Linked DNA regions of Homo sapiens: region 2 is linked to region 1. Evidence: fine-mapped expression QTL. A gene starts in region 1. The other region holds a variant in brackets. All regions are shown on one strand. Distances are between the middles of the regions.

Region 1 (8,743 bases):
TATTTCCACTTGCATTCACAGACACCAGTGCTACAGACTTACAGTTCTTGAAAGAAAAAAAGGGAGGGAGAGAGAAAAATGTATCTGTCAATTGGTTTCTCTTATGAGAATTTTTATCATATATTCTCTTTGCACTTTTGGAACTGAGGGTCACTGAAGAGGGATAGTTCATCAGTAACCAGCCACTGCCATTCATACAGAGAAGAAAATGATGAAATTCTCTCACTGGTAAGCCTCACAATGAGCAAAGTGCAAATAAATTCTCAAGAGGACTCTGACAGACTGTGCGTTTAAGTTCTTAAATGACTATTTAAAATTCACTTGTTGCCTATGAGTATTGTCTTGAGTTGAAAGTAGACATTCCTTCAGAAAAAAAGCAGATGACATTCAGGGGAGTGTTATATACTTATTTTATAATTATTTTGATGTTTGACTTCACAAAGTATGCAAATGACAGTGGTACACTTTGCACCCTTAATCAGAAGTTTGTTTCCTTATGATAAAACAGATAAGCCATTTACTGTGGGTAGCTCCTGAACTTTTCACACAGTAAGGCTAACGTATATGAGATACTGTCCTATCTTATAAGATAGTACACTGTGTTAGTTTCCACCCACTCCCCACAATTATGCTCAGCAACAACTTTTAATGGGTCATATATAAAAACCAGTCTTCAGTGACACGCACACACTCACCCATGCCCTCATTAAAACTTCAAGTATCTCAATTTCTGCTAAATGTATTCTTGTGTTTCCATCAAGCATAAGACAAAGTTTCCCACTTTAGAATAATCTTCATTAACACAGTCTTTAAAAAAAATAGTGACCAAAGAAAATTACAGAAATAGATTGCGATTATGCATTTTCCAACAGCATTAATCAGCAAAACATTAAATATGCAATGCTTATTTTGATAACTTCGTAGATAATTCAAATTCTCCATTTATCAATTTAAACCAGAGAAACCCAATAAAAATGTGTGGGTTAAATGAATGCTGCTGGTTAATTTACCTAACCACCTTCTTATCTTCTATCCACCCTTAATTTCTTAACTTATAAATGTTAATATAAAATTTTAAAAAATAATTCCACAGGGTAAATGATATCAATTTGGAATCAAGTTGTGATTAAATCCCAGATTTTCCTTAGAAATTATGGTTGTGAATTTTGCAATAGTAACATCCTATTTCCCTATAAGTTAATGAATAGTGTATTCTGAACATACTTAAAGCGGTGGTGTTTTCATTTAAGACATTCTCTCCCATAACTGTGAAAAGAAATTAAAATGGTTAGTTTACCCTCAAATAGATAACTTACTCCATTTTAACAATTTCCAAATTTTTACCAAAACTATCAGTCAGTGGCCTGTTTTCCCCTCCACTCTTAGAGTAAGCTTAAAGACAAGAAACATTTGTTTTATCGAAACAAAAAGCAAATAACTACATTTGCTTTAAAATAAACAGACTATGATGCTGTCATCTACTCTGCTCAATAATGTCAAACAGCCATAGATCTGTGTAATCAACTCCATTTCAGAAACCAACTAGCCACCCACACCATATGGTGACTGCTATTTCTTAGAAATACCCAAATGATTATCCACAGAATAACCTAAAAAGAAAAAGCTTACTTTATCTTAGGATATTCTCTTGCTCCCTAAAGTTGTCCTAATAGTACCACAGGTAGGCATTAATTTAAAGGGAAAAATGTAAATTTCCACTTGCTGTATCCAACCAGCTCCTCCTCCCCATCAAGTGTCAAATCCACTTCAAATAGAGAGGTGAACAAATCTGCTTCAACTAGGGAGGCATACCCTTCGGTATGCTTTTTTAGACACCGTATGCATTTAAAATTGGGATTTGTTCCTTTATGCCCTTTATAGCAACTGTTCTATAGTTTTAAATCACTTAATGATAATAAGGAGACTCATCCCCAAAAGTGACTAAAGTTTTATTTACAACTTTATAATCCCAGGTTCCTCCTCCTCCCACGTTGTGGGAAGATATACATCTCCAGCAATCTTAGAAATGGCCTCCCGAATTAGTATTTCCTGTAAAATCTGCATAAATCCATTTGAATTTATAAATATCCACTTAAGTATGCACATACTAAAGAGAACTGTTTTGTTTTTAGTTGACACTAAAACGCAGTTGACAATTTTGAACAATTCCAAAGTTCAGACATATTATTCCCCAAGTTGAAGTTTGTGATACAAAACACACTAGCATGTAATAATGTATGCCCCTAAATTATATTTAAAAACAAATTGGGCACCATCAGCTGCAGTCTCTCCAAATAAAACTTACTGCAAAACCAGAAAATGTGTATCAATTCCTCACCTTCAAGCACAGCTTGCTTTGCTCTAGAATCTTTTTACTGGTTTTCATAAATGTTTAATATCATTTCATTAAAAAGATTTTACTTTTTAAAAAGTAGAAATCTAGTAAAATCTATGTGTTAAAAAAATCACTCATTGCTAAAATCTAAACTTAATTCTAAAATTTCTGCTAAGGAAGGAAAGCGTAAGAGTACTGAAAAGAGTAGGCAAGCCATACACCAGGTGTAGCAGATCTAAAAAGTTGGCCCAGCTGTGGAAGACCCTACACATGCCATCTAGTTTTGTTAATTGTGTTTCAGTCGTTCAGGTTATAAAACTACTGTGTGAAAGAGAGGGCAAAAAAACAAAAAAAAAAAAACAAAAAAAACAAAAAAAAAACCTGCTAGTTTCTTAATTCTGAAGTTAGACCAGTTTTCTAGGCTATCTTCCCTTTAGTTCCCAGCGCTCGGATTCTCTCCACTCTGCGCCGGTTGCCAAGTGTTTCAAGTTTCCAAGAGCCGAGAGAGGAGTTGCCAGTGCTTACCTGTTCCCTCGGTATACAGGGCAGGGAGGTCCTCCGATGGGACTTGCTGCTGCAGCCGGACATCTCGGCGGACACGACGGAGCTGGACCGCCTCCTCCTCTTAAACACCGGGATATCTTCCTTGGTCCCAGCAATCAGCTGGGACCCCAAATGCTCCCTTGGAGCCGCCTCCGCGGACTGCGGCAAGATTTGTTCCACGTACCTGGCCAAGAGGATCCCCAGCACGCCGGCCAGGTACGCCAGGTAAGGTCTCCAGGCGACCTTGAACCTCTCTAAGGAAATGAGGGACACGGTCCTGACCGCGCTAGTCAAGGCGATCATGAGGACGCCCAGCCTCAGCCTCAGCACCAGCCATGTCGCGGCGGCCAAGCAGCTGAGCACCACCCCCGCGGCGGGGAGTGAGAGTAAGTGATCCTCCCCGACGCCCAGCCCAATCTGGACGAGCGCTTCCCCCCCGCAGCAGGCGGCCAGCAGCGCGACAGCCAGAGGCAGGCGCACCCCGGCGCGCAGGAGGTACAAGCCCATCCAGAAGAAGGCACACAGGAGACTGAAGAGCAGCGCCGAGGGCTGCAGCCAGGGGCTGAGCCGCGCACCGCCCCCGGGAGCACCTCCCCGAGGCCCCGGGAAGACGCCCCCTTCTGCTCCCGGGGCTGCTTCCTCCTCCTCCGCCGCCGCCGCCTCCTTACACTGCTCCAGGTCACAGCCGACCTCCCCGCGGACCAGCCTCACCAGCAGCGCCAGCAGAAAGGACAGGGAGCCCGCGCACAGCGCGGAGGAAAGTTTCCGAGAGCTCCGGAGCGGCTGCAGCACCAGGTCTCCCCAGCAGCCACGGCAGCCCGAGTCCCGCGGCGATGCGGGGTCCGCACGATGGTGGCAGTCCCGGCCCGCCGTGGGGGCTTGACTCACCCCACTGTGGACGGGCTTGTCCCTGACTCGTGCAGCGTCGCCGGGCACTGCCATGGTATAGGGTGCCCTCTTCACTGAATTCCCAGTGGCCCCCCGACGCCCCCGCCCCGACCCACGCGCGCGCGCGCACACACACACACACACACACGCACGCACGCTCTTCCCAATTCCACCCTCGGAATCCTTCTTCTCCCCAGGCCCACAATCCACTGAAAGTTTCAGCTTTCGAATAACTCCTGGAGAATGCTAGATGCTCCAATGAGACTTCTTCAAGTTAAAGGCTAGCACGCTCAAGTTGAAAACAAGCACGGGCAGAAACGATCAGGATTCCCCTTTTCTCTCTTTGAATATCTTTCACAGATTCTCTGCTCCACCCCCACCCCCGACTTATATCCTCCGGGGTCTCTTCCTACTTCAGGATTTCAAAAATTGCCCAATGCATCCCGCGCGCAGGAGCCGCTGACGCTGGAGGAGCCGGGGGCGCAGGGCGGGCTCCGGGCCATTCCGAGGCGCAGCTCGGCGCTGCGCTGCGCTGCAGCGCGCCGGGCCCGCGGCAGATGGAGGTCTCCCTTCTCCTCCTTCCTGCAGCTCTTTTTCTATCACTCTTTCTTTCTCCTCGGCCGATTCTCCCCGGCACGGCCCCAGGACGCGAATCGCCATTCCCTGGGGCAGAAAGCAAAGCCTCCCCCGCCTCTGTCAATCCAATTCATGGCAAAGGATGGAAAAAAAAAAATGGACAAGGGGCTGAGAAATAAGAAGTTGCTAAGTCCCGTCGGAGAGAGAGCCAGACCGAGAGACTAGCGGCAGCCGCAGAAGGGAGGGAGGGAGAAGGAGCGAGTAAGAGAGGAAGGGAGGGTGAGAAGAAAGGGAGGGTGAGAAGGGAGAAGGAGATTTGCTTTTTTTTTCCCTCCCCACTTCTATTTGATGCAAGGTTGGTGGTGATTTGCAGTTTTGCAAAGGGGAAACGAGTGGCGACGACTGCTTAAAATTGTATAAAACTGGCAACTGGAGTGATCGACAATTCCGCTTTCTTTCTTTAAGGCAACTCCCTAGGAAAGCTTTCTCAGCCGAGCTCCCGCCCCCTCCTGCGGAGGAGGCGCTACCCTCAGCTCGATTGCTCCTTTGCTGGGAAAGCGGCCGGTTCACCCTACAGGCTGGAGCAGGGGCTGCTGAGGCTGATCCACCGCGCAGCCCACCGCAGCCCCGGGGTGTGGGGGGCTGCGGCTAGCCCTGAGGCTGAGCTCCCTAGAACGTTGGAAGGAAAAAAAAAAAAAAAAGATTGTGTTTGCCTACTTGGCAGATGAGAGCCAACATACTTTCTACTGTCCCTGAAAATGACAGCCACTTCTACTGTCTGATTCAAAGATGTTCCCAAGTCAGGTACAACAGCAGTCCAATTTCAGGTGACAGTGTCATCCTTTGGTCGCTCCTGCTGGAAGGTCTGCTTTATGAGAACCCAAGCCTGGCCTGTTGGTTCAAATGATGGAAGAATCAGCCTTACCTAGACCACAATAGTATAAAAAGAAAGGAAGGAGAGGCAGCAGTCATTTAAATCCAGTGCATGAGTATTACACAATAGTTTTTGACTGTGGAAAGTAAAATTACATTGAGATTAAGTGACCGTATCCTCAAAAAAGGTTAACAAAGTTTAAAAGCCCAGATAGTTCATCAAAAAATAAAGAAAAATCTCAAGGGAGAGGTGAGGATAGGTGGGTTAACACTAGGAGAGATCTTAGAAGACTGTCTATGGCTGCAAAATACTACATCTTCGAGCAAAGCATATGAAAAAAATCAGGACCTTAGTTATTAATGAGTAAAGGTTCGTGTACTGCAGCAGTGTGATATTTGAGAAACTAAAAGAAAATTTTCAAGCTAACCTTTTTTTGGCAGATTATGAAAAAGAATTCAGTATCTGTTCAATGGACTTAAACTCTATTGATGTTCCCTGGGATCTAGTTGTCTTTTTAATATGATACTCCACTTTTAACATGGCTATCTTAGATGTCATTTGCCCTCACTAATAATAATCTTAATAATCCAATTTTGTCTTAATTATCTTGACATTCCAGGTTAAAGTGTATTTACAGCCTAGAGCATTTAGATAATTGATTCAATATGCCACTGTATTTTGTATGTAGACATGAAGCAATAAAAAAAGCCAAAAGGAGATCCTTGAGATAAAATTAATTTATGGGGACAGGGGGAGAAGATGACTTAAGTTTTAAACAGCTTCATGGGAAGCAGCCTGTTCTAGTAGAAGGCAGATATACTATAAAGGTATAGCTTCTCTCTGTCAGATGTCCAGAATTGTGCTACCACACAGGAGTATGAGTTGGGCAGCTAGTCAATGGCAGTGGGCACCATCTGTTTAATAATTAAGGAAACAGGAGCAGCAATGTCTTTGCCAAAGACAAATGAGCCCCCTAGCACGCACACATACTTTCATGAGTTTCCTTTTTAGACATATGATTCATATGCCAGATCCTACCTGGGACACATCGGAGTGAAAAACCTTGATTGGAAAATCATTCATATCTGTTGGCATCAAAAATAACATATTAAAATAATAAACCAAAAATCTGGCATATATCAAGGTTAAAAAGAAAAGCATAGTAAGGGAAATTTTAGAATATTTCAATTTTATCTGTCCCCTACCCCCACAATTATCTCAGTTCTTTAGAAAATTTAATATAATATTATCATAAAAACTGAACACTTAAGGTATGGGAAGCAGATGTTTTTTAAAAGTTGTAACAGGAAAAAATGGCATTTGCTAATGGCAGCAAAACAAGAATATTCTAAATCCATGTGTTAATAACATCCTGGAACTCTTCAATAAAATAAGGAGGCAATGTCCTGGCATCCAGGTTTCTTTAACAAATCATAATCAAAAAGTTATTTGTCCCATCAAAAGGAAAGAAGGTAGATTTTTCTCCCCATACCATCCAGAACCCAGAGGCAAGTGAACAAAGACAACAAAATGCTAATGTTAGAGAGATGCAGAAACCTGCAGGGCTATACTAACTGAAAGAAGCGACTAATAATGTACCTTTAACAGAGTATATTAAATGAAATAAGCTGCAATACATAAACTGGATAGGGAGCAATCACATATAAACACTGCCTCTTTTCTACAGATAGTGGTGAGTCCTAGTTCAAGAAAGTGACAACACAGCCAAAGAATAAGGAAAATGTTGTACGTGCAGAAAAATAGTAGAGCATGGACAACAGAAATAAAAATTTAAGTTTTACTTGATAAATCTTCCACTTAGTCAAATCTAGCAAACATGTTTTTACAGTTTTTTGGGAAAAGGATCTAACCCTTCACATTTGAGCTTTATTAAATATAGTTAAGCGTCAGGGGATTCTATTGTAAAATTCAGTAAGTTTACGTTCCGTAGTATGGGTTCAATCATTCTCTGCTACCTATCTGATTATTATATATTTATATCTAATAGGTACCTAAAACATAAGGTATCCAAAACAAAATTCTTAACTTACAATTCCCTTCCTACCTATCCCCTACCCACCCAAACTATATTTTCTCAATCTTGTTACATCCCAGTAAAGAACATAACCATCTACCTAGTTGCTCAGGCCCCAGAAGAGGGAACGGGTCTTGATTCTTTCCTTTGTTTATCTTGTTTTACTTTTAGTCGATTAGGAAATCCACTTGATCCTGTCTCTAAAATATATTCTAAATCCATTTACTTTTCACTGTCCCTCTTATAATAACCTGCCAAAGACCCATCATCTTCCTTGGCCAGGACAAGTGCAGTAACTAACTGATCTTGCCCTACTTATAATTCATTTTCTATATAGCAGAGTAACACTTTAAAAATATAAATTGAATTATGTCCCTCCCCTATTTAAAACTACCCAAAGGCTACCCATCGTACTTGCAGAATGCAGTCCTCATCACAGTCCTCATGACAGTCCTACAAGGACCTTCATGATCTTTCCAAGTAATTCTCTCTGACCTCTCCTCCTATTCCAATGCTCCTACTTCACTGGTGAAGTACTATTTATTAGAACTTTCTTCAATGACAAATAGACCCTCTGCTGTCCAACATGGTTGCCACTAACCACATGTGGCCATTGAATACTTGAACCATGGTTGGTGTCACTGAGGAGCTGAACTTTTGTATTTTATTTTAATTTAAATTTTAATACATTCACTTGGCTAGTGTCTAAAGGAATGGAGAATGCATCTCTAATACCTCAGGCCACCTTTGTGTTCTTCATACATGTGAAATGGGAAACCCTGTTCAGGGCCTTGGTATCCAGAGATTTTCACATAGCTGGCCCCTTGTGCTCCATCAAGTCTAACCTCAAATGTTACTTTATTTTAGAAAGGCTTTTTTTCCAAGAATCTTATCAAAAATTTTTGGACACCCCATGTACACATACACACTTTTTCTTTCACTATCATACTACCCTGTTTCATTGTATTTATAGCACTTATCACTATACAAAATGGTCTTGTTCGTTTATTTGTTTTCTCACTTATCATTTATCTCTGTTCACTAGGGTGTTAGTGCCATGTGAACAAGGACTCTGAATAGCTGTCTTGTTTGCTGTGTATCTCCAATTACCAGAATAGTGCCTGGCACATGGTGGAAGCTTGTCTTAGTCTGTTTACTGTTGCTATGAAAGAATACCTGAGATTGGGTAATGCGTCATCAGGTGATTTCATCATGTGAACATCACAGAGTATACTGACACAAACCAGATGTGTGACCTACTACACACCTCGGTTATATGGTATAGCCTATTGCCCCTAGGCTACAAACGTGTACAGCATGTTACTGTATTAAATACTCTAGGCAACTGTAACACAATGGTAAATCTTTGTGTATCTAAACATAGAAAGGGCACAAAGTACCATATTATAATCATATGGGACCACTGTGGTATATGTGGTTTGTCATTGACCAAAACATTGTTAGCAGTGCGGGCCTATATCAATACTTAAAT
Region 2 (8,000 bases), 57 kb before region 1:
GTTAGTTCAGTGAAGATTGCTCTAGGCTTAGGAGAGCAAGTCACAGAGCTTCAGAAACACAGATGTGATCAATGCAATATTCACAACTAAACAGCCTTGCATTCAAAATGTTCTTCATACCACTATTCTCTCAAATTTTTCACCATTTGAAAAAGGGCTGTAGCCTGCAGCACTCTCCCAGGGAACAATTTGAGGCAAGGGTTAATAATAAGAAAACACAGTCAAAAGAATAACTGAAGAAAAAAAGAAGGAAAACAGAAGCCAAACCCACGTATGCTATTTTTCTGACCTCTATTTATCACTAGAACGTATGGGCTTAATTGTAGATGTCAACTTTACAGGATTGAGGAATACCTAGAAACCCCGTAAAGCAATTCACTATGTTATGTATTTCATCTTCACATCGTTTCCATTACTGGAGGTATAAACTGTATAGAGACTTTGAGAGTTCTGTTTTATGCATTTTTTGCAAATTCGACTTCACAGAAGTGAACTATGTTTACTTTGTGTTAAGTGTTGTGTACGTATGTAAAAACATTGAAATTTTCTCAGTAAATGAAGAGATGTTCTTTTGTACATTTGCATTTGTGAAATATAAAATTTCTTGAGATCTCAGCTCTTTGGGTGACTACATATATGTTGGTAACCTATCACAGTTTTTGATGGATCTTGTCAAAAGACTTAGGTTGCTCATTATATTATTTCAGATGACCAAAGTTAGAAAGCTGTTGCACACAACTATCAATCATAGTGGTACGCATTTATACATTGTCCTTTTTTGACCTACTTCTTTATAAGGACAGTTCATCTTGTCATAACTATTATACCAGTATGACTGTCATTAGCATACTTGAGTGTTTATATGTGCAAAAGCATGTATGTTGTTATTGCATATTTTGTTGTGTAAAGTGGCCTATATTCTGTTTTTACATTTCTTAACTAAATCCTCTTTTTAAAATATAAATAAATATCTTTAAAATAATATTTTAGGCCGGGCATGGTGGCTCATTCCTGTAATCCCAGCACTTTGGGAGGCTGAGACGGGCGGATCACGAGGTCAGGAGATTGAGACCATCCTGGCAAACACGGTGAAACCCCGTCTCTACTAAAAATACAAAAAAAATTAGCCGGGCGTGGCGGCGGGCGCCTGTAGTCGCAGCTGCTTGGGAGGCTGAGGCAGGAGGATAGCCTGAACCCGGGAGGTGGAGCTTGCAGTGAGTGGAGATCGCACCTCTGCACTCCAGCCTGGGCGACAGAGCGAGACTCCGTCTCAAAAATACTACTACTACTAATAATAATATTTTAATTTTTTTCAGAATTACATTTTCAGGATTTTGATGTTTTGGGGATTGTGATTTTCTGGATTTTAGACTTTAGAGATTTTACTCTTCTGGGATTTTAACATTCAGAATTATGACATTCAGAATTGTGTCTTTTGGGATTATGACCAGCTCTCAATTTAGCCAACCAGAATTACCTAATTGGATGTATAGAAACAATTCCTTAAATGTATCCACTTTTGATTCAAATAAATTCATTACTGACTTGAACGATGTGGGATTACTCCTGACCTCCTGACCTCGTGATCCGCCCGTCTCAGCCTCCCAAAGTGCTGGGATTACAGGAATGAGCCACCATGCCCGGCCTAAAATATTATTTTAAAGATATTTATTTATATTTTAAAAAGAGGATTTAGTTAAGAAATGTAAAAACAGAATATATTATATATTCTAGATTATAACAAACTGATACTATCCAATGCTGCAAAAGAAAAAAAAATGTGACTGTGCCTTTTAATTCTGGATTTAGATCATCTTCTTTACTTTTTACATAGTCTACCTCATGAAAAAATACATACATTATAAATGTATTAATGTATTAAATGTATTAAATTACCTGTTTCCTATAAAAAATATAAAATTTTGAAGCCTATTTATTGCTTTTTCAAATCAGTTATACAAACTGCTGAAATTGAACATAAACCAATGTCTTAAACTTGGTAATATTCATACAGAATGGCTGATATTTTGACAAGATGAATTTAAAGGAATTCTAAGATCTAGCATATACCTAACCATAAGTACAGCTTATTTCAAGATACAAGAATGAAATATGGAAAGAAAAACATGCCTGTAAAACGTAAAGTCAGTTTCCAAGGTCATACTATAGCTATCTTCTATTCTATTTCCCATTAATACACTTCCATTTTACTCAATCCTTAAAAATAACCCTTAGTGTACTGGTACAAATCTCAAGTATTGTCCATGATAAAATTCAAAAGCACGCAACATTTCAACCCCTCTTAGATAAAAAGCAACGAGAGTTCACGGACAAACACCATGGTTTTCTCTGATCAGTTCCCAACACAATACAATATTCAATGAGTCCTGTATCAAACTATTTTTGCTGACATGCATGAAATCATTCTTAATTACCTGCTGAACCTAAATTGGAAGAATTTCTGAAATTTGGGAAAATAACATTACCCTGTGTCCCTTCTTCATCCAATGTTCCTTGATCCATTCTTAAGATTTCAAAACTAGACTGAATAAAAAGTAAACCAATTATATAGACTTTTAGCTCCTTTCTTAGAATAACCAATAGTGCCATCAGGTCTAATTTTAACCATCCATGCAATCATAGAACAGCCCTAAAATTTTAATGAACTTTTGGGGGATTTAATTCCTTTACTGCCCAAGCCCAATGAGGATATGAATGCAAAAATCTTATTTTAGTGAATGTAACTGAATGTAAGCTTCGGCCATATACAGGAATTCTTATATGATTGCTGCAAGACTCAGCACTGGTACCCATTAGTTTTCACCCTTAATACTGAGTAAAAATATACATGGTACTTTCATTATATTGATTCTACTCTTTGTTTTCTAGGGCAATATATAAGCGTGTCCATTTTTCTAAATGACAACCTTATAAATAGTTGGAGACAAGTGTTTTAGTTCCTATTAGTCTTCTCTACACTATACAGTCCCACTTCCTCCATTTCTCATATTTCCAGACTTCTGGCACTCCAGTTTGTCCAAGTCTTTCCTAAAATTATGGTGTCTTGGACGGAACATGGTATTCCAGCCGTGATGCGGCCAGTGTGAAGTACGTCAACTATGTTACTTCCCATGATGTGGACACTCTTATTTCTATTTATAATGCCTAAGGAATTCTTCAGGGTTTTTTATTCTTTTTTTCTCTTTTAAGCAGTTGCAACATACAGTTGGCTCATATTAAGCTTGTAGTCAACTAAAAGCTCCAGATGTTTTTCACAAACTGAAAATTTTCATATTCAGTTCTCATTCGGAGCCAGCAACCATGAGCTCTAGTAACAAGCAGAGAACTCAGATGTGTAGTTGCCTGAATGAGGGATAAATATGTGAGATAATCCACTATAGTTTGTTACAAAATCTCTTCTAGTTGCCATTCTAATTGCTTAAAATTTTCCTCAACAGCATTAAGTATTTTCCTTCCAAGAAGTCTTGAATATTCAAATACATACCTCTGTATTTTATTACTTATTTTGTATTGAATATGTGCCAGTCCCTATTCTAAGAGCTCGAAATAATTTTTTAGTAATTAACGTAATCTGTATAACAATTCTATGAAATAGGTGTCA[T/C]ACACATTTAACAAATGAAGAAACTGAAGCACAGACAATTTAAGTAACTTACCACAAATCACACAACCTGTAAGAAGCACAGCCAGGATTTAAAACCAGGTTAGTCTCATTCCAGAATTGAGGCTCATAATCATCATATTCTGCCGCTTCTCTACAAATGCTTGGTGAAATACGCATAGTGCCAGACACTTGGGAAAGTAATATAATATCATCATTGTCATCATCATATTTCTATATGTTTGTCTTAGTTCTCTTAAATAGAACTATGCTAAGCAACACAGAAATAGGTTATAGACAATCTTAGAATGAGTTTATATTCAATCCTAAATATGAAAGTCACTTTTCAGGGCTGTTGAAAGGATTAGAAAATTAGCATCTGTAAAGTGCTTAGAAAAACGTCTGGCCTAACTTAAGTGCTAGCTCTTTTTAAATATCAATTTTATAAATGTATTTATTCATACAAAAATGCATACATAAATTCATATTTACAAGTCACAAAGTTCCTTACGGCAAGAAAACAATAAACATTTAAGTGAGTCATTAGGAGACTTCATTTTGAAAGGTGAAATATTCTCTTTAAAGAGACACATGTTGAGACTTGAAGGAGGCAAGACCATCAGAAATATTATATGATGAAAAAAATAAAATCGCTCAGTTTCTTTAGCACCCATCTGCCGGTGGAAAAAAAACCCACTGGCTTTATGTATGTCACCACCTTGTTTAGTAATTAAAGACTACTCCAAAAAACACGCATTACCACCAGACATTATTGGTCACCGAGGCCAATCCAGGCGTGTGCCTCTTTTAAACACTCTAAATGGATATTTTTGGCAACCCATGTGTGTTCCTGCAAATGCAAGTTGATCTAAAAACATGTTCTTTTGTCAGTTCTTTCAAATGAATGACACAGGATTCCACAGACTGTCATATTTGCCTAAGATGAAGTGCTACATACTGTAACAGTAAAACTAAGAGCATCTCATTACTAGAATTTCCTGAGTATGCCAAGTCCTCATTTGGCTTTGAAGTGAGTTTGTTGTGCTGTGCACAGAGACAGAACACAGTGTGGGTGTTACAATGAACGAAATTTAGGAGGGAATCCTATAGTCATTGCTTCATGATCCACTGTCTTGATATGGTTGTTCTACTGTTGATATTGTTCTTTTCAATATTATAATCACTGTTAAGACTTAACAGTTTGTTACTGACTGGTTTTCTCCACAGTGTGAGTGATATAAACTTGCATATTTTTCTATGATTTTCTGGTAAGTAGATATTCTGACACGTATGCCTAGCAGTTCCAACATAAATCATCCATAAGGCAGGTGTAAACATCATTCTACACCACCTATCAAATATTTGTTTTGCTTTACATAAATAGGACCACATCATTTTTTATTCATCTGTGAATCTATATTAATAATTTGCAATAAAAATTTTTATAAAAATACAATCCTGAACATATGTTTAAATTCTTAGCTTACAGAGTAATCAGGAATTCATTTATGCTCCCTTACATCTATTTGTATCTATAGAAAAATTTTTCTACTAAAACAGAAACTTGTGATCTAAGGGAAGTAATTGAAAGAGGGCAGTGGGGAGGTAAAGAAAAGTTGAGAGGCCTACTGATGTAAATTATCCGCTCTCCAAATGCTTTTTCCTAGCTCATGTCTCCATTAATCACTACTTTTTCCTTTTCAACTCACAACTCAAAATTGACTAACTTATTTTATAGCCACCTTATTTTACAGCAAGAACTAATATGATTGCTACAATGTATTAAGAATTTCAAGCTGAGAAGTATCCTTTAAAAGTTTTACTTTCGCAATATGTATTTTTTTAATACTGCACTTACGGTTATGCATGAAACTGCAAAAATCCACTACTTTCTACCTCTGGTTTGTATATGCCTCACCAAATTCCACTTCACCGAACACTGCTATTTCTTCATTCTTAGACTAAACACAATAACTCCACTCACACCCTAGTTATTGCTCACTTGGTTATTACTATAGGCACTATCTGCTCTTTCTATATTTCCAGGACCTAAATAATTTTTTTTTAAATCTACCTTCTGGTCACAGCTTTACTACCTGTAGCCTTACCTTGGGATATGTTTGGGTAGAAGTGCATATGATCTCAGCCAGCTGTCCCTGCATACCACCAGGAGGCTATAGGAAGCTGAAGCACTGTCTCTGGCTCACTTGCTACAGAGGGAACAAAACTGTTAAGAGGAGGCACGGTAATACCGGTGGTATAAGAAGGATGAAAACAAGGGGAAGTAAAGCACAGATTAGCCACTCACCAGCTCTAAAATCTTACGCATGAGAGTCCACTTAACCTTCATAATTATTTCTAAACCAGAATTAATGATTCTGAAAGTCTGTTTTTGAAGGAACACCTTTGTTTGTCCAGATGCATGAGGCTGTTTTCCTCTGCCACAGAGAAACAAGTTCAAGGCATTATAAAAAGTGTACTGTTAAAAAGAAGACTTTAATCTTAGCTGTACATGCAGTGTAAAACATTTCAGAATTTAAAGTCTCAAGAAAGAAGTCAACTAAAACAGATATGAGCACATATGCATAGGTGTTTACATTGTGTCTGTGAAAGAGATACAGAAACAGAAAGAAAGAGAGGGATTGATTTGGGAGAAAAATTGATTTTCTGACACACACAATATCTAATTGCCATTATTTATTGTAACTTTCATACCTATGAAAACACAAGGATTTATTGGGCTCAATTTTACATCTGCATATATTTCCTCTGGATATTTTATAAATAGGTATTCTTCATTAAAATGTTTTATATAAATATATTTTGATCAATGAAAGGCCACTTTTTTCAGAGATCTGAATATAGAATATGGGATTATAATTTGGTACTATATAATCCAAAAATATCAAAAATCAACCCAGGCTTCATTGGCTATACATTCCAGTGATTTCTAGCATTTCAAGTCTAATATCATGCACTACAATATTAAACTATTACTGTAACATAATATAACAAATTAGATAAAGATGTCAGTATTTTAAAATTATGTCCTCCAAATAAACATGTAAGTGTTGGATTCTGACAGTCACAACTCAAGTTTTATAGTTTTAAGAACTGCCTCCAAGGCAAGAGATAAACATACTAGAACTAAGATTGTCTTTTAAAATTCAAACCTTTCTAAAAATATAAAAATATTCATATTTACCTTTGGGGCTGTTTAACAAAATTTGCCTATTTTCTTGGAAGAATGGGGACATGATACACTAAGTCTATATGCGGTTATTCCATGTCCTTCTGTATACATTTTAGAATGTGACTTTGGTGGAAATATGTCTTTTTAAATTATGGTGTTTTTCTGATAGAGAATATTTTCTAAAACAGGCCACTGTTGTATTATAATGGGGGCCCCTCAATAATAACATGCAATGGAACAAAAGGTCTACTTTTATTCAAAGGTGTTAGATTTAATATATGACCTCAACTTCATATTAGATTCCATTCTTCTGATACCCATTTGTAATTACAAAAATAAAAATGGCACTTCAAGGCATAGATTATCTTTTTAAAAGACTCGACAGTTAGTGCCACCCTAAATTTTTTTTTTTTTGAGACAGAGTCTCGCTCTGTTGCCCAGGCTGGAGTGCAGTGGTGCGATCTTGGCTCACTGCAAGCTCCACTTCCCGGGTTCACGCCATTCTCCCCTCAGCCTCCCGAGTAGCTGGGACTACAGGTGCCCGCCACCATGCCCGGCTAATTTTTTGTATTTTTAGTAGAGATGGAGTTTCACCGTGTTAGCCAGGATGGTCTCGATCTCCTGACCTAGTGATCCGCCCACCTCGGCCTCCCAAAGTGCTAGGATTACAGGCGTGAGCCATTGCGCCCGGCCTGCCGCCCTAAAATTTTAAACTAAATATAGCAATCGTTCTACCAAAAACGCAAGTGAAGTTGAGATTTTTCAATTATTCTTATAGAGGAAATTTATACTATTATATTCATAAAACTTCACAATTTACCTGGGAAAGAAAAACACAGTTACAACACAGCCTGAGCCAAATCATCCCAGACAGGCTATTCTCAGAGCTTGAATTTTCCAAATATTTTCCCACTCTTTACTTTACATTGCTCATTACCAATCTATGTTTTTAGCACTTCAAAGGCCAGCTATTCAAAGGAGCAAGAAGCTAGACAGACATGAAACCTGAATACCACTCTCAGGAACACAGAGTGCTCTGGCCCGGCCACAAAACCAGGGCTCATTTCACCTCTCCCACTTCCTGTTAATAGCAAAGGTTAGAAACAGATTCTGTTCCCAAGCACAAAAGTGAGCATGGGTGGTTTTTTTTTTTTTTTTTATTACCAATAAAACTCTGAGGAGTACACA

Evidence for each region. PIP is the estimated chance that this variant, and not a neighbour inherited with it, causes the effect. A credible set is the group of variants that fine-mapping cannot tell apart.
Region 2: its variant is the best candidate, but not a certain one, in a credible set for the expression of PDE3A in subcutaneous fat (GTEx, PIP 0.52).

The regions. Positions count from the first base shown.
Region 1 is chr12:20,364,362-20,373,104 of GRCh38, reverse strand. It overlaps PDE3A (phosphodiesterase 3A), which reads right to left and starts at 4,568. Exons shown (of 16, transcript NM_000921.5): 1 at 2,861-4,568. The coding sequence starts at 3,820. PDE3A-AS1 (PDE3A antisense RNA 1) reads left to right here and starts at 2,849. Exons shown (of 2, transcript NR_186033.1): 1 at 2,849-3,264. RefSeq lists a silencer at 3,236-3,530.
Region 2 is chr12:20,421,570-20,429,569 of GRCh38, reverse strand. All of the region lies in intron 1 of PDE3A (phosphodiesterase 3A), which reads right to left. Among named protein-coding and RNA genes, the nearest start is that of PDE3A-AS1, 55 kb to the right of the region's middle. The variant T/C (reference allele first, on the strand shown) is at 3,623.